2 separate regions of the Homo sapiens genome follow, and region 2 is linked to region 1. Evidence: fine-mapped expression QTL. Tissue or cell type: esophagus mucosa. Region 1 holds a variant in brackets; the other region holds the start of a gene. All regions are shown on one strand. Distances are from middle to middle.

Region 1 (8,108 bases):
CCTGGTTAAAAAAACTTTTCAGACTCAGAGAAAATAACCAGCTAACACTGTCCTGGAGACAATCCCACCTATCTTTCTGAAGAGAGTCAAGACTGACTGTAGACAGAAAGAATGTTCTTACTGCAAGCAAAAAACTGTGCATTCCCCATCAGAGACATAGGCTTTCCCTGCTTACCCACCTGCATCCTCCCATGTGCTGGCTCCTAAACTTTGTAGTCAGTAGCCAAATATGGACAATAAGACCTGAATATTGCTTGTACTAAAGAACCACTTTAAAAAACCTTGGCCCCTGTTTTACACGTTCTGGCTTGTAACAGTGTGAATCACATAGCATGTCCTCAGCAGCTGTGCCCATTCTGAAGCCAGAAAATGGTTCTAGGAATGAGCACAGAGGATGAGGATAGAGACTCACAGGACACAGCTTTCACTACATGGCCAGAAATGCTTTTTGTAAGGCCCAGCCCTTTTGTTCATGAGAAGGTGCTTCTTTGTTTGTCTCATCCATTCACTTGCTTCTTTAATTTCACATTTTATGAATTGTTTAAAATAGCTGATTATCTGAGTATTCTTATACAACTACAGGCACCTTCATCAGGGATTGCCTTAATCCATTTCAAAGCCCAGTGACTACAGTGCATGTCAGCAGGGAAACAGGTGGTTAACAGTGAGTAAATGTTGAGCCATGTTTTGTTCTGTCTCCCTAGCAACAGGATAGAAAAGGGTCTATTTGGATACATTGGTTCCAGCAAGGAGAGAAAAAGGCAAGAAGATGCTTCCTCCTTTTTTCCATGTATCTCTAGCCTCGTATCTACTACTTAGCTCTAGAAAAAAAAAAAAGTGGAGAACACAGGTACAAAAAGTATATTTACTACACAAATAACTCATGAAGGCTCTACGATGATATCTCAAGATCGGGACACTTCCTCGTCTCCTTCTCATGTGGCAGTAGATTGCATTATTGGTACCAGTTATTGACTCCCACTTTCTTATAAGAAGATTTTCTTATCCCATCCAATGCATAGGCATGTGCTATGCTTTAGAGGTAATGGAATTTGAGAAGAAATTATGAATGCCACAACCAAGCATAACCCTAAGAGCCATCACGTACTTCTGTGATTGCTTCTGTTCCTGCTGTCATAAGAATGGCATGTCTTTCAATCTGGATCCCAGAACCCAAAAGACATGCAAAAAACTGCAACTGACCCCCACCAGACCCACAGCTAACATGTATATAAACAAGAAATTAATTAATTATGAGTATCTGAGTTTTGGGGGTCATTTCTTACCATAGCGATAACCTAGTGAAAATGAATGAATAAAGAAATCAGTACCAGTTATGAGGTGTCACCAGAATGAAAAGCTAAAACATTTATCTCCAGTCCAGGAGATAGGCAGTTGCAAAGCTCTTATTAACTCCTGGAAAATAAGAGTGACTCGTGTTTTTATTGATAAGGCATTTTGCTACAATGTGTGTATGATAAGTTGGAATGAGCTTATGAATTTAGCCAAAGAGTCTGGGAGACTGAAGGCAACTAGCATGTTTTAGCTGCTGTTGGCTACTTTAGAAAAGGTATTACAAGAACAAGATAATTTCGGATAATAAATTGTGTATCTGACAGCAAGGTCAAAAGATGGAATTGACTGTTCTCTCCAAATGATGCGAGCTGAAATTGAGGAACAAGGATCAAAACTCAGTGTTACAGTAAAGACCAAATCATTGGCCTCATGCCCTTTGTTATGACCTCTGAATTGAATGAAGGGAAATCAAGTCAACACTTTTTATGCGGAATGTCTCAGAGAACAAAAAAGCCAAAGGGTGTGACTCTTTCTTGGAAGTCTGCTACCTCAATTTACTTCATCTTACCTCAAGCTAAGGTAGAACAGGTCATGAAAAGAATTGTGGATATAACTGTCGGCACACTGGAATTTTGCAGAACAAAAACTAATTAGGCTTTGAGAGAGTTGTACTGCCAAAATAGCCTGTAGCTGTTTGAGAAGTAAAATTACCTTTGAGCCAACAATATTCTGTTCTTTTCCCAAAGAGAGAATATTCTTTTATGCCCAATTCTCATGTGGCCAAGGAAATGGATGGGGAAGGATGGACTTCCCGGGGTGTGGAGCCAAGAATCTCAGAGTATGACCGACTAGAGACCTGCTCCAAGGCAGCAGACACTGGGATGGTTGAAATAAGGTTGTCTACCAACTAGCTGGGGGTCCTCACAATGTTTGTCCGAACAGATTTCAGAATTTTTGTTACGCACTGATGGCTGAGTGCCGCCTTCCTTCCCCTTTCTGAAAGCGAGTATTTATCGAGATTACCCTGCCCCAATATTACATGTGGATTGTGTGATTGTGTGTGGAGCCGCCAACATATCTTTCAAATCTCTAGATACCAAAGACCCTATACAGTAAAGTTAAAGTGCCATATGAGATCCAAGACTTGAAGTCTGATGGTGTGATTAGATGACACACTGGGGGTTCACTTAAAGGAGGGAGTGGCTTCTGCATACTTAAGGGAAATGAAGCAATATTTGTAACCAGGTTTGTACTGTGAGTGGTCTCAAGTACCATTCTCTGGTATTTTTATGAAAGTGAAATTTAATGTCATTTTCCCATAAAATTATCTTGAATATTATTGATAGCTGTGCTTTAGGTTAATGTTTTTTTAAATGATTGACACCTTAAATTGACACTTTACTGTACATCTTATTATTTCTAACTGGCAAGCTAATTTTTCTACAGGTACTGAGGAAGTTGGTAAGTGGATACTCCCACTTCTATTTTTAAGTAACATCTTTGCTTAAAAAGACAAAACCTTTTTGCTTTGTCTTTTTTTTTTGTTTGCTTAAAAAGACAAAATTTTTATAAAAAAGATATAAAAAGATGAAAATATGAAAAGTTTCCAAAGGTGAGTAACACATAAAATACTCAAATTATAAAAATAAAAATTCAGTAGCTAAAATTAAGAACTTTGTATGAGTGAATAATAGAGTGAATAATACATAGAAAGATCAACAGCTAATATATTAAAGTAATTACAGAGATAAATTATTGAAAATCTATATTTGAGACATTTAGGAAACAGTAAAGATTTGAACATTATTTGGAATTAGAATCTGCAAAGTAGAAGAAAGAGAGATAAATGGGACCAAAGCAGTATCTGAGGAAATAATGCCTGAGGATTTTCCAAAATTGATGAAGACCTCAAACAGTTAAATTCTGGAGCCTTAAGATTTCATGGAGCTTACCTTGCTAGATTTTGGACTTGATTGGGACCCATTCACCCCTTCCTTCTTTCCTGTTACTCCTTTTTGAAATGGGAGTGACTACCCTATACCATGACGGTTGTATTTTGTATAACTTGTTCGATTACACAGGTTCACAGCTAGAGAGGAATTCTGCCTCAGGATGAATTGTTCTTTCCATTGTTGTTTTTCATTGTTCCCTCACCCTTCCCTATAAAAAGGATATACTCTATGTCTCACAGACATTCTGCTTGGGCCTACAACTGCCTTTGAGAATGTGAGCTGAAGTGATGGTTGCCACGACCACGTAGATACTTGAAGATATGCATCCAAAGATGTGTGATTACTTTTCCTTCTGCTGTAATGTGGTGTGTTTGCCACCTAGATCCCAGAAGATACATGAAACAAAGCAGTAGTCAACCATTGTTATTTTTATACATGAAGAAGAAATAGGTGTTCGTGATTGCAAATCAACGTAATTCTGAGGGGTCTTTGATACTGCAGTACAACTTATTAAAGTTGATTAGCATGTCTGCCATAAGTTCAATTTATTCAGGGAATCATGAGTTTTGTTTACAAGAACAAAAATCTGAGAAAAACAGGCCTTTTCTCAGATTTTAAACATTAACACCTCATTTTGTCATATAGCCCAAGTTTCAGACCCCCTGACCTCTCTCTGTCCAGATCACACAAAGGGAAGCATTGGGTAGTGGGAAATTCTGTGTGATTCTTCCCCATGAGCGTGGAGGCCCTACATGGGGTATTAGAGCCAGAAAGCTGTGAGGACAGAATGCAGCTGTTGGGGGCCAGTGGGGTGGGGAGTCTGAGCAAGGTGGGGAGGTACAGGGAGAAGACAGCAGCCACTATGGGAGAGTGATCACACATTGTAGAAGCATTAAGTCAGCACATGGGTGAAGGATAATGAAAACCAGAACTTCACTCTTGGAGAATGGACTTCCACACAGCCCTCCTCAATCCCAGTGCTGGGCCCTGTCCTTGGACACTTTCCTTATCTTGTTAGGGTCCAGCACCTTGTACTGCCCTGTCATGCGTCCTTTTTTTTTGAGACAGAGTCTTGCTCTGTTGCCCAGGCTGGAGTGCAATTGTGTGATCTTGGTTCACTGCAACCTCCACCTCCTGGGTTCAACTGATTCTCCTGCCTCAGCCTCCTGAGTAGCTGGGGTTACAGGCACCTGTCACCACGCCCAGCTAATTTTTTCATTTTTAGTAGAGACCAGGTTTCACCATATTGTCCAGGCTGGTCTTAAACTCCTGACCTCAGGTGATCCGCCAGCCTCGGCCTCCCACAGTGCTGGGATTACGGGTGTGAGCCACTGCACCCGGCCCCTCATGGCTACTTCTAATGTCCCTTTTCCCCAGAAACCAAACATATATACATCTTCCCTTTCACAATATTCCTTGTCCCCTTCCATGTTGCAAGGGAAACATTCAGGAACTTGGGGTAACCAAGCCACTGCCCACAGTTCATGCGTGGGCTCTGGAAGAAGCCCATTCCACCTCCATTCTCTAAACACCCTCCCAGAGCACCACCTGGTCCTTACCTTAGGAAGAAAAAAATATCACACTT[T/C]CAACAAATCTAAGACTGGCTACCAGGTTATACAAGAGATGTCCAATTAAACATCTTGATTTTTCTTACCTCACACTCAGCCCACCGCTTTTAAGCATTCAAAATTCTAAGATTCAGAGGGTGAAAAAGAGGCCTGCTTGCAGAATTCCAAATAATATATGCAGATACTCCGCCATCAGGGAGGGGAGCATAATCCCTGAAGTGGGGACTGCACACAGTGACTTTCTGTCAATAACTACAGTATGGAAAGGGGAAAAAGAGCTTTTACCATGGAGAAACCTGGAAAACACTACCTCATCCATGTGATTTAAGTCAACATCAACAGCGATCAGTCATGATGACAGCATGCACTCCTGATACCATATTATGAAAACAATGATGACCTCTGTGGTCTTCCCTTGCTAACCCAAAAACTCCAGTCTAATCATGAGAAAAACAGCACTGAATTTCCAATAGATTCCCGGTGGTGGTGGCTCACACGTGTAATCCCAGCACTTTGGGAGACTGAGGCAGGCAGATCACTTGAGGTCAGGGGTTCGAGACCAGCCTGGCCAACATGGTGAAACACTGTCTCTACTAAAAATACATAAGTCATCAGGGGTGTGGTGGTGTACACCTGTTATTCCAGCTACTTGAGAGGCTGAGGCAGGATAATCATTTGAACCCGGGAGGAAGGGGTTGCAGTGAGCCAAGATCGAGCTACTGAACACACAGCCTGGGTGACACAGCAAGACTCTATCTCAAAAATAAATAAATAAATAAATTTCCAGTAGAGGGGCAGTCTACAAAATATCTGACCAGGACTCCCCAAAACTATCAAGGTCATCAAAACTGGAGTCCCTGTGACAACCAGGAGTCGTCTAAGGAAGCATGACAAATAGATATAAATGTGGTATCCTGGATGGGATCCTGAAGCAGATAAAGGACATTAGGGTACTAGGTAAAAACTAAAGGAATAGCAATAAAGCATGGACTTTAGTTAACAATCATGTCAGTATTGGTCGCTTAGTAGTGATAAATATGCCACTAATGCAAGATGTTAGTAATGGGGAAAACTGGGTGTAGGGCATACAGGAACTCTCTGTATCACCACTGCAACTTTTATTTAAATCTAAAGCAAGCCCCCTTCCTCACCCTGCTTGCTACTACCCACAAGTTGTGCGGGTAGGAACAATTCCCTCTTTTCTCCTTCTGTGAGTCAAGGTAGACTTAGAAAAACAAAGAGGGGTATCCGGGAAGACCCCAGCATGGAAAGTCACCCCTTTTTCACCCCTCCACCCCCCACCCTCATAAAACTGCAAAGGCAGGAAGAAATCTCTCCAGTGCGCCAGAAAGAACGGACCAGTATCAAGAGGACGCCTCCCAGAAAGGACAAAACCAATGTGCCTGTCTTTTACACAAACAAATTTCCCATTGAACATGTTCAGAATCACGACTCTGCAGTTTCCCTGAAAAGAATTATTATATCTAAGGACACCGATTCACCAGTTTCACAGTAACTCTGTACTGGCCTGACTTTGTAGCCAGCAGTTAGCACTTCTTCCCCCTCCCCGCCTGCCAGGGGGTGATGCTATGAATTCGCAGTAGGAATAAGGAGCTGGAGCAAGATTCCTACTCGACGGTGGATAGCTGGACTTCCTCAGGCACGACTGGCCTGCAAACCATATAGGTCAGGAAGCAGGTGTCCAGGCTGCCAGAGCATCTCCTGATCCTATGAAAAATGGGCATTTTCCCAGTTTGGAATATTGTGGACCCAATTTCAAACATCCTGCCTTCCACTAGGATGAGCCACACACACCCGACCCCTTAGCCCTTCAACTCTGTTCCTGCTTAGCACAAATGTGTGGGTAGTAGCAAGCAGGGTCAGGAAGGGGGGCAGGAAACAGAGCACAGATTTTATAGATGAGCTTTAGTTCTCCCACAAGGGCTGCCTCCAGTCAGTCCTCCTGAAATGTTATCCACACAGGCCTTGAAGCAACCTTTATGAAAGTGCAGTTGCCTCATGGCCCACATCGTGTTTCATAGATGATCAAGGTGGGCTCTTTTATCCTATGTCTAAGTTTTATGTTTTGTGTGTGGATGAATATGTGAAAGTTGATGGAGTAGATTAATCTGCAGTCACACTTAGGAGTCAGTCCATGAGGAGAAACATCCTACTACAAATGTGAGCTCAAAAAGAAAAGGAGAAAAATGAACAGGCAGCACTCGTCCCTCCTCTTCTTACCTTGTACAGGTCAAAGGGAGGCACAGCTGTGGCCCAGAGAGACCTCTCTGATCCATACCACATGCTCATCTCTCCTGGCATTCTCCACACTACACCCTCCCTCCACCAGCCCTCTTCACCTTAACTCTCAGAAACACAGTTGGTGCCTCAGTAGGTCTGATGCCACCAGCCTTTACTCAGAATGTGCTTAATCCAATTAGAGCATTCTATCACATTAGAGAGTTCACATTGATTCTCTCCCTCTGAAGTCGGGCCGCATACACAGAGAAACCATCTGGGACTCAGCCATGTTCAGTGAAGAATGTGGATGGCATGGGCATCCTTCCCATTTGGGGATCAAGCCTTCTCTTCTTCAGCTGCAGCTCCTCCAGTGTAATACATGTCCATTTATCAAACTCCTATCTCCTTTCACTTCCGGTCTCTATCACATATTATCTGAGTTTGCTCAGTCACTTGATTTCTATTTATGAATAGTACACTATGGCTGACCTATGGGACAGGGCAGTGTGTGGATCAGGTCTATTTACAGGGAAGATAGCTTGGTCTATATCCACAGTGACAGCTTATGAGGAGAAAGGACATGCAAGAAGAGAAAGCATTGCTGGCATCCCTGTCTGTTCTGTGCCAAGAGCCATCATGTTCCTGCTTCCACTCCAATCTTACTCTCATGCCCTCCATGCATCTAAGAGGAGGATGCAGTGCCAACAAAGCCTTCCAGCACATGAAGAAAATTCACATTCCTTAACATTTTCCAGTCCAGCGCTGCCACATCTCCACAGCAGGCAAAACTTTCTTTTCTAAGACACGCTCCTTGCAAACTTTTGGGTATATATCCAGTGGTCTCATAAAACATGTCCTGGGTGTCACATTCAGAACGGGGCATCAGAAGATGAAAATGAGAAATGGTTCCCTTTTTGTTTCTCCCTTCAATCAAATTTTCCTCCTTACCCCATCAGATTTTAAAGTACCACTTACTAAATTACAGTAAGTACTCATTCATTCTGACTCATAGTTCACAAAATATCTGGGATTTATTCTATTGCATATTAGA
Region 2 (8,108 bases), 950 kb after region 1:
CGACCCCTGTTTGTAGCAAGAAGACCAAATTGTGTAAACTAGTAACAAAGACCCTGCATCATTTGTTCCAAACCTACCTTTTAGATCTCTCTTTTTTTTTTTTTTGAGACAGAGTCTCACTCTGTTGCCCAGGCTGGAGTGCAGTGACGCAATCTCTGCTCACTGCAAGCTCCGCCTCCTGGGTTCATGCCATTCTCCTGCCTCTGCCTCCCGAGTAGCTGGGACTACAGGCGCCCACCACTACACTAGGCAAATTTTTTGCATTTTTTAATTTTTTTGGATGCAGAGTCTCGCTCTATCCCCCAGGCTGGAGTGCGCTGGCGCAATCTTGGCTCACTGCAACCTCTGCCTCCCAGGTTCAAGTGATTCTCCTGCCTCAGCCTCCTGAGTATCTGGGATTACAGGTGCCTGCAACCACGCCCAGCTAATTTTTGTATTTTTAGTAGAGATGGGGTTTCGCCATGTTGGTCAGGCTGGTCTTGAACTCCTGACCTCGGGTGATCCTTCTGCCTCGGCCTCCCAAAGTGCTGGGATTACAGGCGTGAGTTACCGTGCCCGGCCAATATTTTGGGTTTTTTTTTTAGTAGAGATGGGGTTTCACCATGTTAGCCAGGATGGTCTCGATCTCCTGACCTTGTGATCCACCCACCTCAGCCTCCCAAAGTGCTGGGATTACAGGCGTAAGCCACCGCGCCCAGCCTAGATCTTATTTCCCCATACCATATTTCACACATCCTGTGTTCTACCCCGGTCAGCACTCTGCTGCTATTCTAACCTGCTCCTACCTTTCCTCCTCCATATTTGGTTGACACTAACTACCCCTCTGTTACGGTTACTTTGGTACTTAACTAGTATTGCCTTCACTGTGGCTCCCAGTGAACATGTGGCTTGCTTATATCATTTACTCAACCAACCAACGTTTACTGAGCATGTACAATATTCTAGGAGCAGGGGTACAACAGCCCACATGGGGTTATCTCCTGCTAGAGGTAGGGCGAAATAATAAACGAAATAAAGACATTATTCTGGAAAAGTGGCAAATGTTATGGTAAAAAATAAAACATGTGAAGGGCACTGGGGAGTTGAGTTGGGGGATTCTAATGACCATAGTTAGGAGGCCTTGCTGAGCAGTAACACTTGAGTAGAAGCTTCAAAGAGCTTTTTGAAAAGAACAAAGGAGAGAGAAGCAAGTGCAGGGGCTCTGAGGTATGAGCGGGTGTGCAGTTTCCTAAACAAAGGCCACTGTGGCTGACCTTGAGTGAGGGCAGGTGAGATACATTAGCGTGAAAAAGCGAGTGTCCGGCCGGGCGCGGTGGCTCACGCCTATAATCCCAGCACTTTGGGAGGTCGAGGCGGGTGGATCATGAGGTCAGGAGTTCGAGACCAGCCTGACCAACATGGTGAAACCCCGACTCTACTAAAAATACAAAAATCAGCCAGGCATGGTGGCGGGCGCCTGTAATCCCAGCTACTCGGGAGGCTGAGGCAGGAGAATCGCTAGAAACTGGAGGGCGGAGGTTGCAGTGAGCCGAGATCGCACAGCTGCACTCTAGCCTGGGCAACAAGAGCAAAACTGCATCTCAGAAGAAAAAAAAAGGTGAGTGTCAGATCACGTGGGGCCCTATGGGCCATACACAAACCCAAAAGGCAAGGAACAGATCTGCAACCCATTTATTTGGCCAGATCATAATTTATTTTCATCTGGAGCCATTACAGAACTATTTAAGTAGTTCTGTTTCAACTTCATTTACATAAAACAAATAGATATGCAGAAATGTTTAAGGATGCTCTAATCTAGTCTGAGGGGTGTATTTAATTCTACAACACAGATAAATCTTTGCAAATTGTGTATATTTGAGATTTATGTTATGGGAAACATACAGATACTAACACAGTTACCACAGTAGAGCAAATCAACATATCTATCATCTCATGTAGTTACTTTTTTATGACAAAAGCAGCTAAAATCTACTCATTGAAGGAAAATCTCTAATACAATTTCATTAGCTGTAGTTCTCAAGTTGTACATCCTGAATATCTGCTACTTTGTATCCTGTGACCTAAATCTCCCATTTCCTCTCCCACCCCCACCCCACCTTTTATTCTCTGCAGAAGTCTTATCTTTCTGTTCAATATCACAATGTATAGCAATCAAATAAATCAGTTTAAATGAAGCTTACACCATCTATAAAAAAATGTAATATTCAAAGTCATGTGTTTTAAATATGAGTAAACCATATTTACCTATTAAAAACATTCTGAAAATATGTGAAATTCTTTTTATTATCTCTCCCTAACAATAGCTACCACTTACTGAACACCTCCCCAGGCACTATTCCATGCATCATTTCTACTCATTTCTCTTCTACGCAATAAGATGAAGGTATCACTTTACAGCTAAGGAAACCTCCCAGGGGTAAAAAAGAGTCACATGCAGAGGACCACACAGAAAGGGACTTTACTTCTACACCCGGCTGCCCACATTACATTAACACTTTAGAGCTCTTAGGTCGGGCGCGGTGGCTCACGCCTGTAATCCCAGCACTTTGGGGGGTCGAGGCGGGCGGATCACCTGAGGTCAGGAGTTAAGAGACCAGCCTGGCCAACAAGGTGAAACCCCCGTCTCTACTAAAAATACAAAAATTAGCTGGGCGTGGTCGCCGGCGCCTGTAACCCCAGCTACTCCGGAGGCTGAGGCAGGAGAACCGCTTGAACCCAGGAGGCGGAGGTTGCAGTGAGCAGAGATCGTGCCACTGCACTCCAGCCCGAGTGACAGAGCAAGATTCCATCTCAAAAAAAAAAAAACAAAAAAAAAAACTATATATAGAGCTCTTAGTTTTCTACGAAATCTTTACTACCTGGTTTCCACTGCTATCTAAGTTAGCTTAGGCCCGGCTCGGTGGCTCACACCTGTAATCCCCGCACTTTGGAGGCCAAGGTGGTTGGATCGCTTAAGTCCAGAATTAGGAGACCAGCCGGTGTAACATGGTGAAACCCCGGTTCTAAAAAAAATACAAAAATTAGCCAGGCATGGTGCCGCACGTCTGTGGTCCCAGCTGCTGGGGAGGCTGAGGTGGGAGGAGCACTTGAGCCCGGGAGGCGGAAGTTGCAGTGAGCCCAGATTGCACCGTCTAGCCTGGGGACAGAGCAAGACCTTGGCTCAGAAAAATTAAATACATGTTAGATTTAATTTTTTCCAACCTCTCACTTGGCTAATAATTTTTCAAAGCAGTACTGTACTTATAAATATTACAGAACCTAAATCTCCAACCCTAACTATGCAACAATATTAGTTATAAATTACAATTTTAACTTACATGTAAGTTTAATATGGTCTCTCTTATGAAAAAAAGGCTGGGAGAGGTTAGAGATGACTTATTCACTCTCATTTCCTCGTAAATACCACCCTTTATTCTCATTTAAAGTCTTAAACCCTGGCCGAGTAGCTCCAGCCTAGAAAGAAGAAAACACAGAAGTAGGCAAAAGACTTAAAGTTACTAAGTACGTTTTATAATTTGGTTACTAGCCTTCATACTCATTTTGCCAACCAATCAACATAAAACCTACTCAATCGAGCACAACTACTGCTTCGACAGGCAGCTTACTGGAATGGAAACTCTCGACTCTGATATTTCCTCTTACTAAAAAAAGTATTAACCGGGCACATGGCTATACACAGGATTTCTAGAAACAGAACTTAACATGCAGTCCTGTATTAAATGAACTAACAACCTAGAAAAGAAATTAAGGAGGCACAAACACCAAACTAAACACACAGTTTTGAGCAATTGTATAGAGAGGGAAATAGGATTCCGTGATTTTATAAAAGGAAATTAAAACAGTCAGGCTCAAAACGTCACAGCAGACTTCTAAGGCTTGTTTAACTGTCAGTTATGATCCCCGCAGCAGCTGAAGCCACCTTCTAAAACTCACCAAGACAAATGAAATTATTTTAATGAACTTAATGAACATGCGTCCCCGACATGGCCAACGAGCCAGGCTTCCGTGGGACTGAACGGCAATCCGATTCACGGTGGGTTTCCTCACTGAGGATTACAGGAAAACCGCTTCAGAACACCCGGAAAGGAAAGTTGCCCGAAGAACCCTTCTCCGACACAAGGCGGGCTGGCTCGCCACCAAGTCAGCCCCTTCGCGCTTGCCTGAAAGGAAGGAGTGGCGACCTCACCCTAGTCGGCCGGCCGGCCGCGCGGCTTCCCCTCGCCGGCGCAGCCTTGGGCACCGCGGCTCACACCCCCACACAGGCCGCCCAGTCCTGCGCTCGCACGGCCACCGCCTTCGTCGCCGTCCAGTGGGAGATGCGAGCATTCGGGGCTGAAGCCGTTCGCACCGCCTCCTCCATGGAGAAGCGCCGAGGAAAACCTGCCAAGGACAACCTCCGGCACCGCCGTCACCACCGCTGCCGGGACCTAGGGCCGGCGCCGGAAAACCTAGGCGCGGCTAAATGACGCAAGAGGCCTCGCGCGCACGCGCAGTGCCGCACCACGTACACCCCGCCCCCGGGGCTCTCTCCCGCCGGGTTCCGGTTCCTTTACAAGGCCCCAGTCGGCTGAGCGCGGAGGGCGGGGCGCGTAGAGTGTGGGGACGGGGGCGGGGCGCAGGATCCAGGCGGGACCTGGCGAGGGACGAAGCTGGAAGCGTAGTTAAGCAGTACAGTATGCTGCCAGGTGGCGTTGGCCGATCAGTTCAAAATCAAACTCCGGCGTGGCCCTTATTTAAAACGAGGATTCCGGGCCCGGCGCTGTGGCTCACGCCTGTAATCCCAGCACTTTGGGAGACCAAGGCGGGCGGATCCCGAGGTCAGCAGATCGAGACCATCCTGGCTAACACGGTGAAACCCCGCCCCTACTAAAAATACAAAAAATTAGCCGGGCGTGGTGGCGGGTGCTTGTAGTCCCAGCTACTCGGGACACTGAGGCAGGAGAAGGGCGCGAACCCGGGAGGCGGAGCTTGCAGTGATCGGAGATCCCGCCACTGCACTCCAGCCTGGGCGACAGAGCGAGACTCCGTCTCAAAAAAAAATAGAATAAATGAGGGTTCCGGCCGGGCGCGGTGGCTCACACCTGTAATCACAGCACTTTGGGAGGCCGAGGCGGGCAGATCACGAGGTCAGGAGTTCGAGACCAACGTGACCAACATGGGGAAACCGCATCTCTACTAAAAATACAAAAATTAGCTGGACGTGTTGGTGCGCGCCAGTAATCTCAGCTACTCCAGAGGCTGAGGCAGGGGAATCGCTTGAACTCGGGAGGCGGAGGTTGCAGTGAGCCGAGATCAGCCACTGCACTCCACCTGGGCGACAGAGCGAGACTCCTTCTCAAAAATAAATAAATAAATAAAATAAAATGAGGGTTCCCAGGGGCAGTCACAGTGTGAAGCTGCATTTAATTGGTGTCCCCGGGCGATGCCAAAGGGGAACAGAGCTCCCAAGAGGGCAAGAAGCGGGGGAAAGGGTGGGTCCAAAGCTGGGGGCGGGACGGGGCGGGGCCGAAATAGCTGTGGTAGTTCGACGACCGCTGGGCCCTTCCTTACTGACCCGGTCGCGGAATAGATGTGAGGTTGACGTTTGGTGAAAGCCCGCCTCGAGACACTGAGAGCAGATTGATTGAATGATTGATTTTGAGACAGAGTCTCGCTCTGTCGCCAGACTGGAGTGCAGTGGCACGATCTCGGCTCACTGCAAACTCCGCCTCCCCGGTTCAAGCGATTCTCCTGCCTCAGCCTCCCGAATAGCTGGGACTGTAGGCGCGCGCCGCCACGCCCGGCTAATTTTTTTTTTTTTTTAAGACGGAGTCTTTCTTGTCACCCAGGCTGGAGCGCAGTGACACGATCTCGGCTCACTGCAACCTCTGCCTCCTGGGTTCAATGAAGCCATTCTCCTGCCTCAGCCTCCCCAGTAGCTGGGATTACAGGTGCACACCACCACGCCCAGCTAATTTTTGTATTTTTAGTAGAGATGGGGTTTCACCATGTTGGCCAGGCTGGTTTCGAACTCCTGACCTCGTGATCCGCCCGCCTCGGCCTCCCAAAGTGCTGGGATTACAGGTGTGAGCCACCACACCCAGCCAATTTTTGCATTTTTATTAGAGACAGGGTTTCACCATGTTGGCCAGGATGGTCTCGATCTCTTGACCTCGTGATTCACCCGCCTCAGCCTCCCAAAGCGCAGATTTATTTTTCATGAGATGTATAGGAAACTAACTGTTAGGCTATCCTGCCTTGGCTCCTCCTGGAAAGGAGAAATTCCTTGGGATCCACCAACGTGGTTTCTGCAAAAGTAGTCAAAGACAGAGCTCATTTGTAAGAAGCAAAGAGTAGCCAGCTAGAGTTAGATCTCCTAGTAAATCAATGATTCCTTGGTTGCAGGTGTAGAGTCCCTTAGGAATGTTGTTCCAGGTTGTGACTAGACACAAAAACACTATTATATGAAATTCAAATCATGTGGGGGGAGGATCTTTATAAAATGAATTATGCACTTTTTGAAACAAAACACCAAATATCATTTGTCCTTTTCAGGCTCTAATCCTATTGGACTGTTGTGTTCTAGACTGTATACACAGCCCCTGACCACTCTGGTTTTGGTTTAGGTCACTATGCAGCTTCTAATTTTAAAGCTTTTAATCTGCCGTGAGCCTAGCAATCATCTTAAAACTGGCTCAGAGGACCTATTACTTGCATCTCAGAACTGGCTCAGAGGATCTATTACTTTCTTTGGTCTCAGCCATGTTTTGGCTAGTTGACACTCTCAGATAAGGAATTCCATTGAATATTGAAAGACGGTTGACAAGTTGGTCTCAGGTGATGTGGTAGATTGATGAAAAATGGCTCCAATTTCCCACACATTTTGCAGTGACTTTGCAGCTCCCCTCTATTTCCTGAATCTGTACTGGCCTTGGGCTTTGGCCAAGAACATGTGGCAGTTCCAGACTAAATTATGATGCCTGGACTAGCCTGCTGGAGGAGGGGACCACATGGGGCAAGGCAAGCAGCAAATCCACCTAGGTAAATGCTGGCTGACTACCATTGAGACCAGCCACTGACCAAAACTGCCCCATTAACCCATAAACACATGAGGAAGGATAAATTACTATTGTCTGAGCCACTTATTTTGGGGTAGATTGGTATGTAGCAATAACTAACTGATACAGATGCCAACAAATACCTCTAGGACAGAGGTCCCCAAGAGTGCGAACCTTATTGTGAATTGTGCATGCGAGGGATCTAGGTTGCACGCTCCTTATGAGAATCTAAATAATGCCTGATGATCTGAGGTGGGACACTTTCATCCCGAAAACATCCTCCCCGCGCCCCCCTTCCCCAGCGTCTGTGGAAAAATTGTCTTCTATGAAATCAGTCCTTGGTACCAAAAGGGTTGGGGACTGCTGCTCTAGGAGGCAGATGAGTAATAAAGTAGTGGTTTGTTCACATGAACAGGAATGCTTAGGTGTCGATATGTTAATTTAACCTAACGAACAAATTTGCTTGTCACTCCTTTCTGCCAGCTGGAGCTCCACCTCATCTAATCAGCTTTCTGTCATTATTTGGACCTCCCACCGGACACCTCCCCCGACACTGCACAGTGCATTGTCTTTATAAGTCTATATATACCTTGCTAATATGCTGCAGGCTTCTTACATGCCCACATCACTTCTCCAGCCCGTGATGTTGTACATCTTGTATACTCTGAGTGTTCAAGCAGTTGTCATGAGATATTTTTAAGGTTTTAAAACTCTAACTCCTTCTCATACACTACTGGTGGAATTGTAAAATGGGACAATTTCCTTGGAAAATTGGTTGACAGTTTCTTAAAAAGTTAAACATACACCGACCAAATGACCTGGCAGTTCTACTCCTGAGTATTTACTCAACAGAAATGTATCCATAAAAATACTTGCAGGCCGGGTGCGGTGGCTCACACCTGTAATCCCAGCCCTTTGGGAGGCCGAGATGGGCGGATCACGAGGTTAGGAGATTGAGACCATCCCGGCTAACACGGTGAAACCCCGTCTCTACTAAAATTACAAAAATTAGCTGGGTGTGGTGGTGGCGGCACCTATAGTAACAGCTACTCGGGAGGCTGAGACAGGAGA

The links. PIP is the estimated chance that this variant, and not a neighbour inherited with it, causes the effect.
Region 2: NIPA2 starts here. The variant in region 1 is fine-mapped to the expression of NIPA2 in esophagus mucosa (GTEx, PIP above 0.99).

The regions. Positions count from the first base shown.
Region 1 is chr15:23,780,109-23,788,216 of GRCh38, reverse strand. No RefSeq gene overlaps it. Among named protein-coding and RNA genes, the nearest start is that of NDN, 97 kb to the right of the region's middle. The variant T/C (reference allele first, on the strand shown) is at 4,834.
Region 2 is chr15:22,835,000-22,843,107 of GRCh38, reverse strand. It overlaps NIPA2 (NIPA magnesium transporter 2), which reads right to left and starts at 4,442. Exons shown (of 8, transcript NM_030922.7): 1 at 4,187-4,442; 2 at 3,318-3,453. RefSeq lists an enhancer at 4,316-4,545.